Regions from separate parts of the Homo sapiens genome. Here region 1 is linked to region 2. Evidence: fine-mapped expression QTL. A gene starts in region 2. The other region holds a variant in brackets. All regions are shown on one strand. Distances are from middle to middle.

Region 1 (4,389 bases), 93 kb before region 2:
GTTTTTTATTTTTTCAAAGTCAACTTTAAAAATGAAGGATAGGCTGGGCAAGGTGGCTCATGACTGTAATCCCAGCACTTTGGGAGGCCAAGGTAGGACAATCACTTGAGCTCAGGAAACATTAGCTGGGTGTGGTGGCGTGTGCATGTAATCCCAGCTTATCAGGAGGCTGAGGCAGGAGAAGAGCCTCAGACTGAGAGGCAGAGGTTGCAGCAAGCTGAGATCGTGCCACCGCACCCCAGCCTGGGAAACAGAGCAAAACTGAGACTCAAAAACACACACACACACACCGGGGAAACAGAGCAAAACTGAGACACACACACACACACACACACACACACACACACTCTCTCTCTCTCTCTCTCTCTCTCTCTCTCTCTCTCTCTCTCTCTCTCTCTCTCTAGAAAGATGACAAAGCAGGGCCCTATCCTCCTGATTAGTTTTTTTCACCTATCATGTTGCCTTTCTCAAAAAGCATCAAGAAATGTGACTCACGGTTTAACAGCTACTGGATTGGGCAGGAATCCAAACTCCATGGAATCGGCAATCTGATGATTTTCTAGTTCATGAGAGCCATTCAGCTGTTCTCCACTATTAGCAAGAGTCCAGTTGGGGCCCCAACCAACACGAAATGAGCGTCCCATGAATAGGGCCATGTCCATCAAGAGTTTTCCCTTGCCATAGGTGACAGACTTTTCACGAGGGACTAGGCCTAGTTGCCTACGTGTACCCACTGTTTTCAACGGAACCTCAGGGGCTGGGCTGGGCATTGTGAACACAGAAGTCAGGGGTGGAGGGACAGACCAAGAGGATGTGGATGGGATATTCATTAAAGATGCTGCTCTGGGAGTACGACATTCTTGCACAGAGACACTTGGTGAAAGAAAAGCTCCACTTGTAAATTTTGATTGTAGTAACCCACCAACTGAAATGAAGCGGGAATGAAGGGGAGAAAGACTATTACAAAACACAAGCTATTGTTTCTTGAACAATAACAAAAATCAGTAAGGCTGAAATCATTCAATGTTTAATCAAACTACTTATATCAGATGTGGATGACCAGAAGCAGGCTAAGTCAGATTTTGCAGAAATTACTCTTTGAACTAGGAAATCAGGACAAGATTCTAATGATGATGATGATATCTACAACAATAATAAAAGCAACAACACTATTAATATTATTTAAAAATATGCAGCAGGCTCTGTATAAGTCATTTGTATATGTTATTTCATTTCACTCTTCAAAAACTTTTTTTTTTTTTTTTTGGAGACAGAGTCTCGCCCTGTAGCCCAGGCTAGAGTGCAGTGGCATGATCTTGGCTCACTGCAACCTCTGCCTCCTGGGTTCAAGCAATTCTCTGCCTCAGCCTCCCGAGTAGCTGGGATTACAGGTGCCCGCCACCATGCCTGGCTAACTTTTCTGTATTTTTAGTAGAGACAGAGTTTCACCATGTTGGCCAGGCTGGTCTTGAACTCCTGACCTCGTGATCCACCTGCCTCAGCCTCCTAGAGTGCTGCAATTACAGGCATGAGCCACTGCACTTGGCCTCAAAAACTTTTAAATGATTAGCATTATTATCATTCCTATTGTATATATGAGAAAACTGAGCTCAGATAAGTGACTTGTCCAAATCTACAAAGTGACAGGACCAGGAGACAAGCCAAGGTTAAGTCTGGCACCACTCCTCATGCCCTTATCAGAATCCTAAAGGTAACGATTTCTTAGCACATATAAAAGTAAGATCAAAACTCAAATTCCTACTCTACTCTAAACAATGCTACAGTCAACGAAATAAAAACACACTAGGTATCTTACAATTGTACATGTGACCTTCTGAAGGACAGTTCTTTAAAAAAAAATTTTTTTAACATTTAAATTTTTATCTAGCTAGCTAGCTATTATAGGGATGGAGTCTTGCTATGTTGCCCAGGCTGCTCTCCAAATCCTAGCCTCAAGCCATCCTCCTTCCTCAGTCTCCTAAAGTGCTATGATTATAGGCATGAGCCACTGTGCCCGGCTGAAGGACAGTTCTTATTACCAGTGCCTGTTTCCCAATTTTACGTGGCTTTTGTCTAAAGCATGGAGTTAAATATTATTGAAGTACCAGATTTTCATGTAGTATCCATTACGGAAAAGGTTATTAAGAATGTTTAACTGATACTTTTTTGGTTAATATATTTTCTTTCTTTCCTCTATACCAAAGGGAAGTTAAAAATATTTTTAAAAAGCAAAGTTGATAATAAGGGAACTCAAAAGAATTGAAAAATATTTAGTTTTTAAAGCAATATAAACAAATGTCTCTCTGCCAGTTCCTCTGGCTTTCAAAATATGTTGAAACTACATCTGCTTAAGTTCTTTGCTGATATTAAAACTTTATTTCCAATCCCACATAGTTACAAGCCCACTAGAAAAGAGAAAACTTTAAAATCAAATATG[T/A]AATCACTTCCCTGGGAATTTAAAAAGGTTTAGTGAAAAGTAGAAATCTGATGTGCTCTGTGCATTACGAGAAGCAATACTTGTCCCTAGAAGACAATAAGACAGTGCTGTAAGGACTGCACAAAACAAGTATAGTGCAGGACAACTTGCTGAACTAAGTAATGTTATAAAAATTGGGAAGTCAGAGCTTACTATCTAATCCACATTCATAAGCAAACAAAAACATGAACCTAAACAAAGCACAAATGCTTTTTTTCTCCATACACTTCTGCATCTGCACAAACAGAGGTAATTCTAGTTCTTAAAAACCGGCCACTCCTGCCAGGTGCAATGACGCATACCTGTAATCTCAGCACTTTGGGAAGCTGAGGCAGGATGATCAGTTGAGGCCAGAAGTTCAAGACCAGCCTGGGGCAAGATAGCAAGATCCATCTCTATAAACATTTAAAAAAATAATTAGTTGAGTAGTGGGTATATGCCCATAGTCCTAGCTACTCAGGAGGCTGAGACAGGAGGACTGCTTGAGCCCAAGAGTTCAAGGCTGTAGTAAGTGCGACTGCATAACTGCACTCCAGTCTGTGCAACAGAGAGAGACCCTGTCTCTAAAAACAAAAAACCTGGCTACTCTTAATGAATACTTATAAGTACAATTTCTCTTAGCACCCTTATGTCACAGGTATAGTTGTTTGGCAGATACTTGCTAGAGAAGTCCACTTGGGTTAGAAGAAGAAAAGTGAAAAGCAGGACTTGATGACTGTACAGCTTTCTTGTAAAATAGCATCTTTTATACTGTACCTAGTGAACGAGTTTTCGACGAGTGGGATGCTGAAATGGGGAGTCTGGGAGAACAGATTTCTTGAGAAGTATCTGCTTTGGAAGGCAGGCGACTGAAGCGTTGATCCAGTGCCATATCTACATCTTCTTCATCAGTAAGCAATGATGCTTTCATGATCTAAAAAGGCAATATCTATAGAATGAATGTGCTTCCCAGAATCAAAAGGCCATACCAAAAAAAAATGCAGTTTACAACAACCAAAAATATTGTTCCTCCTCAAGGCTGTGTACAGAGCTAGTATATTTGTGTGATGGATGGACCCCATTACACTGTGTGTGCCTGAAAGGCAGAATTCATATAATACTTCTCTTCTTTGTATCTATAGCGTCTCACCAGAGCCTGGCACACAGCAGTTGCTATGTTTGCTGATAAAATAATTTTAAAGTCAAACATAAGCCAAAGGTTAAACACATAACACACCAAAAGGCACTGGGATAAAGGGAAGTAAAGACATAGCTTAAAGAAACCTGTGCTACTAGGTACTAAAATTTTTAAATTTTGTGGAGCACATACAGAGTCTTAAAAGTACCCTGTGATGTAGACAAAGTAATATTTTATAGAGAAAAATCAGTACTCACAGCTATTATATGACTTGCACAAAGTAATAAAGTTACAAAATTGGGATTGGGGCCGGGCTCAGTGGCTCATGCCTATAATCCTAGCACTCTGGAAGGCCAACGCGGGCAGATCACCTGAGGTCAGGAGTTCGAGACCAGACTGACCAACATGGAGAAACCCCTTTCTCTACTAAAAATACAAAAAAAAAAAAAAAAAAAAGTAGCCAGGTGTGGTGGTGGTACACGCCTGTAATCTCACCTACACAGGAGGTTGGGGCAGGGGAATCACTTGAACCCAGGAGGTGGAGGTTGCAGTGAACCAAGATCACACCACTCCACTCCAGCCTGGGCGACAGAGCAAAGAAACTCTGCCTCAAAAACAAAACACAACAAAATTGGGATTGGAACTAGGACTCTGGATTCTAATGCAGTTAAAACCAGAAACCCTATCTACTAGTTCTCAATATAGCCTTATCTCCTTGAATAAGAGAATGAGGCCCAGACATTGGCCATATTCTTGTATTTTTTTTCCCCATTACAGTGAGCACTCAATGATCTTA
Region 2 (4,389 bases):
TGGTGCACACCTGTGGTCTCAGCTACTTGGGAGGCTGAGGTGGGAAGATTGCTTGAGCCCAGGAGGTAGAGGCTACTGTGAACCGAGATTGCGCCACTGCACTCTAGCCTGGGTGATGGAGTGAGACCCTATCTCATAAATAAATAAACAAATAAATGTCAGGGACCAAAGTATCACATAACATATAAACAGCAGGAACTATCTTATCTGGGCCCCATATTTCAGGAGCCTCTCTATTGACTACTGTTAGGTATAACTCCTCCATATTTGTCTATTCATTCAAGTAAACACACTTACTGAGGGCCTACTATGTGGCAAGCAACTGGACAACAAAGATAAGATGAAAATATTTTACCAGCCTAATTAAAAAAACAGCTAAAATAAAAATGATATGTGCTATAAATAGAAATATCAAATAAGTGTTATGGAAGCTTGCAGAGAAGAGAATGCCAAGAAAAGCTTCCCAGAAGAGGGTGATGCCTGAACTGAGAAAATGTCACGGAAAACATACCCTGTTCACGCTTTACTATTTAGACTACGGTTCTCTTCTGCACTACTAGTTCTGAGTTTATGCTTTGTCATCTATACAAGAACAAAGTAACAATCTTACTGATGTGTACAGAACCAAGTGTCAACTAATTCAATTTCATCAAATCTGAAGAGTCAAAAAGAATAATTTTACCCAAGTATTTCCCAGTACCTTTATCCTGTCCAACCTCTAGTTTTGGTTTTTAAATACCCTAACTTCCTCCACCAGGTAAACATACTGTAACCCAGTTAACTCGAGTTTCTTTTCGAATTTGTAAGACCGTCACAGGGAATGATCACTGCTCTCTTTTTGCTCTTTATTCCAGTTAGCTTCTTCCTCCAAAACGGAGTTTTATTTCCTCACCTTATTCTACTATAATACTTCACTTTGAATTCTGTACCTGAAAGGAGCCATGAGTTCCGAGGTACAACTACTACAAACGGACTCCTACCTGGCTTTCTAAGTCTTATCAATATTTCCTGCTTTCTATTCCAGTACTGTTATAAATCCCTAACTGACTCCGAGTCCTCATCAGCTGACACAAGTCAAAAAATTCAGATTTAGAAAGGGAAACAATGGCTTGTAGTTTTACCGATTTGTTTCCGATACATAACAACGCTGACGTTCTTTAACCATCTTCTAAGTTTAGTTCTCAAGCTCTAGGTTAGGGTACCACTAACGAAGCTTCCACCTTACCCGTGAACAGAGCTGGTAGCAACTAAACGGAAAACGCTGTGAAGACTACATCTACGTTTAGCTACCTAATGTCCATGCCGCACCGACCTCCTAAAGGGAATTCTTAATAATGGGAGACTGAAATATCCAGGGAGGGTGAGGTAGTAGAAAACTGTTTAGACTGTCAAAAATCTGGCATTGGCTAATCCTGCCTGTTACTCCGGGCCTCGGTTTCCCCATCTACAAAACTGATGTAAGGTAGGGGGATTGACTTAAACAATTTCTAAAGTCCTTATGGCTATAGTAATCCAGAAACTCAATCTGTCTCCTCATCTGGCTTTACACTGAACACGTGGGAAAATAGAAAAGAACCTTTTGCTCCACCGAACCGACTCCTATTCTCAGATATTATCTTAAAAATCTCCCAAACTTCGGACTCACCCTAATCCTCGGGGTGCCCACTTCCCTTATGGAGAAGCCAAGGCAAATAAAGCCCAGTCCCACATGACGGTCAAGGAAGTGCGGGGCAGACCGTATTCAGGGTTTCAAGGCGCTGACCCCGGAAAGGCCAGCCCACCGTGGGGTCCTTACACCACTGAATGAATGAGTACAACCAGACAGACACCCACTCGCGTGGGCAGCAACTGGAGACCTCCAGGCCTAGACCCCACTGATGTCCATTCTCTCCCAGGGCCTCCAAAGCCGGGCCTCCCGGGCTCCGGGCCCCCGGGTCCTCAGCACCGCCCCTCTCTCAGGCCAGAAGGTGCGCGCAGCGGCGCTAGACTTCGAAGCGGAGAGGCCCTGAGACGCCCCGCGCGTCCGCCCGCCCGGAAGGGGGGAGAAACCTGCCGGTCTCGGCCGCTGCAGCTCGGGCTCCCGACTTACCGCGGTTCGGTGGGGAAGGGGAAGTGTCAGGAGTCCCCTGCTGCCACCCGCCGCTCACAGAGCAGCGCGCGGCCCCCACGAAACCGTCGCCGCCGCCGCTACCACCCCTGCCACCGACCGCCGCTTCGGGCGCAGCGCGCAGAGGGCCCGACTGCGTCACACGCCGCCCGGCGTCAGAGGCTCGTTGCGGACGCTCCGCCCTCGCCGTCCGCGAATTGGTGGACGCGGCCGCCACTCTGGGTCGACCCTGTTATTCATTGGGCAACGCGTCTTTTGAAACCGAACTGAAGGGGGAAGGGGCGAGAGGGAAGAGGAGGGGCAGAAGGAGTTCGGGGAGGCACAGGGTAGGAGCGGTGAGAGGGCCGTGGAGTCCCGCCCCTCGCCGCCGCGGTTGGCGGGAGCGTGTCGTGACGTCACACAGGGCCTCTCGAAGTGGGCTTGTGAATGGCTAGATTGGGAAGCACCGGCGGGGTGTCGGGAAGGGTGGTGACGCAACATAGAGACTCCGCCCCCTTCCTTGGAGCGCCGCGACTCGGGCTGAGGGAGCTCGGGCCAATCAGAGGGACGGCCCCAGAATGGCATGGTAACTATTCGACCCTTTCCTTGCCCCGGTCCGCCGGCGCTGCTGGGAAGGCTTCCTAGTCTCTCTGCCCGCACTTCCCGCCCAGACCACGTGCGGAGCCTGAGGGCCCTCTTGGAAGGTCTGTCTGTCCAAAGAGTTTGCCCGAGGCTTCTTCAGGGCCCTAAATCCTGACCCTATTCTCTCCTGACCCATGCTCGCCCCAGCACTTTCTTTCCCTCCCTGAATTTCTAGGATGGACATTAGGAGCATTAGAGATGCCCTAAGGGACTGGCCCACCAAAGGGCCTGGTACAAATGAGGATTGTTGGAACGTCTTTCCCAGCTGCACGTGGAGAACCCCTAATTCTTTTTTTTTCTTTTTCTTTTGAGATGAAGTCTCGCGTTGTCGCCTAGGGTGGAGTGCATTGGCGCAATCTCGGCTCACTGCAACCTCTGCCTCCCGGGTTCAAGCGATTCTCCCGCCTTAGCCTCCCAAGTAGCTGGGATTACAGGCGTCCGCCACCAGGCCCAGCTAATTTTTGTATTTATAGTAGAGACGGGGATTTCACTGTGTTGGTCAGGCTGGTCTCGAACTCCTGATCTCAAGTGATCCACCCGCCTCGGCCTCCCAAAGTGCTGGGATTACAGACGTGAGCCACCTCGCCCATGAACTAATTTTTTTTTTTTTTTTTGAGATGGAGTCTTGCTCTGTCTCCTCTTTCTCCCAGGCTGGAGTGCAGTGGCACGATCTCGGCTCACTGCAATCTCCGCCTCCCAGGTACAAGAGAGTCTCCTGTCGTAGCCTCCCGAGTAGCTGGGATTACAGGCACTCGCCGCCGCGCCCAGCTGATTTTGTATTTTTAGTAGAGATGGGGTTTCACCATGTTGGCCAGGCTGGTCTCGAACTCCGGAACTCAGGTGATCCGCCCGCCTCGGCCTCCCACAGTGCTGGCCTTACAGGCGTGAGCCACCGCGCCCAGCCGAACCCCTACTTATTCTTAAAGGACGGGTATTTCAAATGTTCCCATCTTCTCAGTGATACATTTGCCAAGCTTTCACAGCGAGTTGAGCTAATGCTTGGGCAGGCCTCTGTTAAAGCCTTGTCACTTTGTATCCTATTATTTACCCTCGGTTTTCTGTGCCTTGGGCTCTTCTTGGAAGTCCTTCTGGGGCCTAGCCCATTAGCAGAAAACTGATATTACAAGAGTGAAAGGTGGGCATTTTCTAGAAACTAGACCTGTTTAGTGACTGAGAGTCTCATAGCAGGAACTGTGCGCAGAAAGCAAAGCGTATACTGGCCGGGCTGGTGGCTCATGCCTGTAATCCCAGCACTTTGGGATGCTGAGGCGGGCAGATTATTTGAGGCCAGGAGTTCGAGACCAGCCTGGCCAACATGATGAAACCCTGTCTCTACTAAGAATACAAAAATTGGTCAAGCATGGTGGTGGGCACCTATAATCCCAGCTGCTTCTCGGTTTGCTGAGGCACGAGAATGGCTTGAACCAGGGAGGCGGAGATTACAGTGAGTGGAGATCCTGCCACTGCGCTCCAGAGTGATCTCAAAAAAAATTTTTAAAAAACCTCCACCACTACTCCTTTGTGAGACATGAATGCAAAATTGAACTGGGCTTTTACCTAAAATGTAAATGAGTTTAAAGCCATCTGGGTTTTCGGTGATGGCAAGGGATTAGAGATAATTGATTTATTTGTTTGTTTAAAAAATGGGAGACTGGGAGTGG

Evidence for each region. PIP is the estimated chance that this variant, and not a neighbour inherited with it, causes the effect.
Region 1: its variant is the best candidate, but not a certain one, in a credible set for the expression of NUP98 in whole blood (TOPMed, PIP 0.54).

The regions. Positions count from the first base shown.
Region 1 is chr11:3,701,968-3,706,356 of GRCh38, forward strand. NUP98 (nucleoporin 98 and 96 precursor) reads right to left here. Exons shown (of 33, transcript NM_016320.5): 22 at 3,233-3,389; 23 at 496-925. Among named protein-coding and RNA genes, the nearest start is that of CHRNA10, 33 kb to the left of the region's middle. RefSeq lists an enhancer at 114-613. The variant T/A (reference allele first, on the strand shown) is at 2,438.
Region 2 is chr11:3,795,311-3,799,699 of GRCh38, forward strand. NUP98 (nucleoporin 98 and 96 precursor) reads right to left here and starts at 2,244. Exons shown (of 33, transcript NM_016320.5): 1 at 2,090-2,244. It also overlaps a transcript of PGAP2 not described here. RefSeq lists silencers at 1,921-2,010, 2,091-2,260.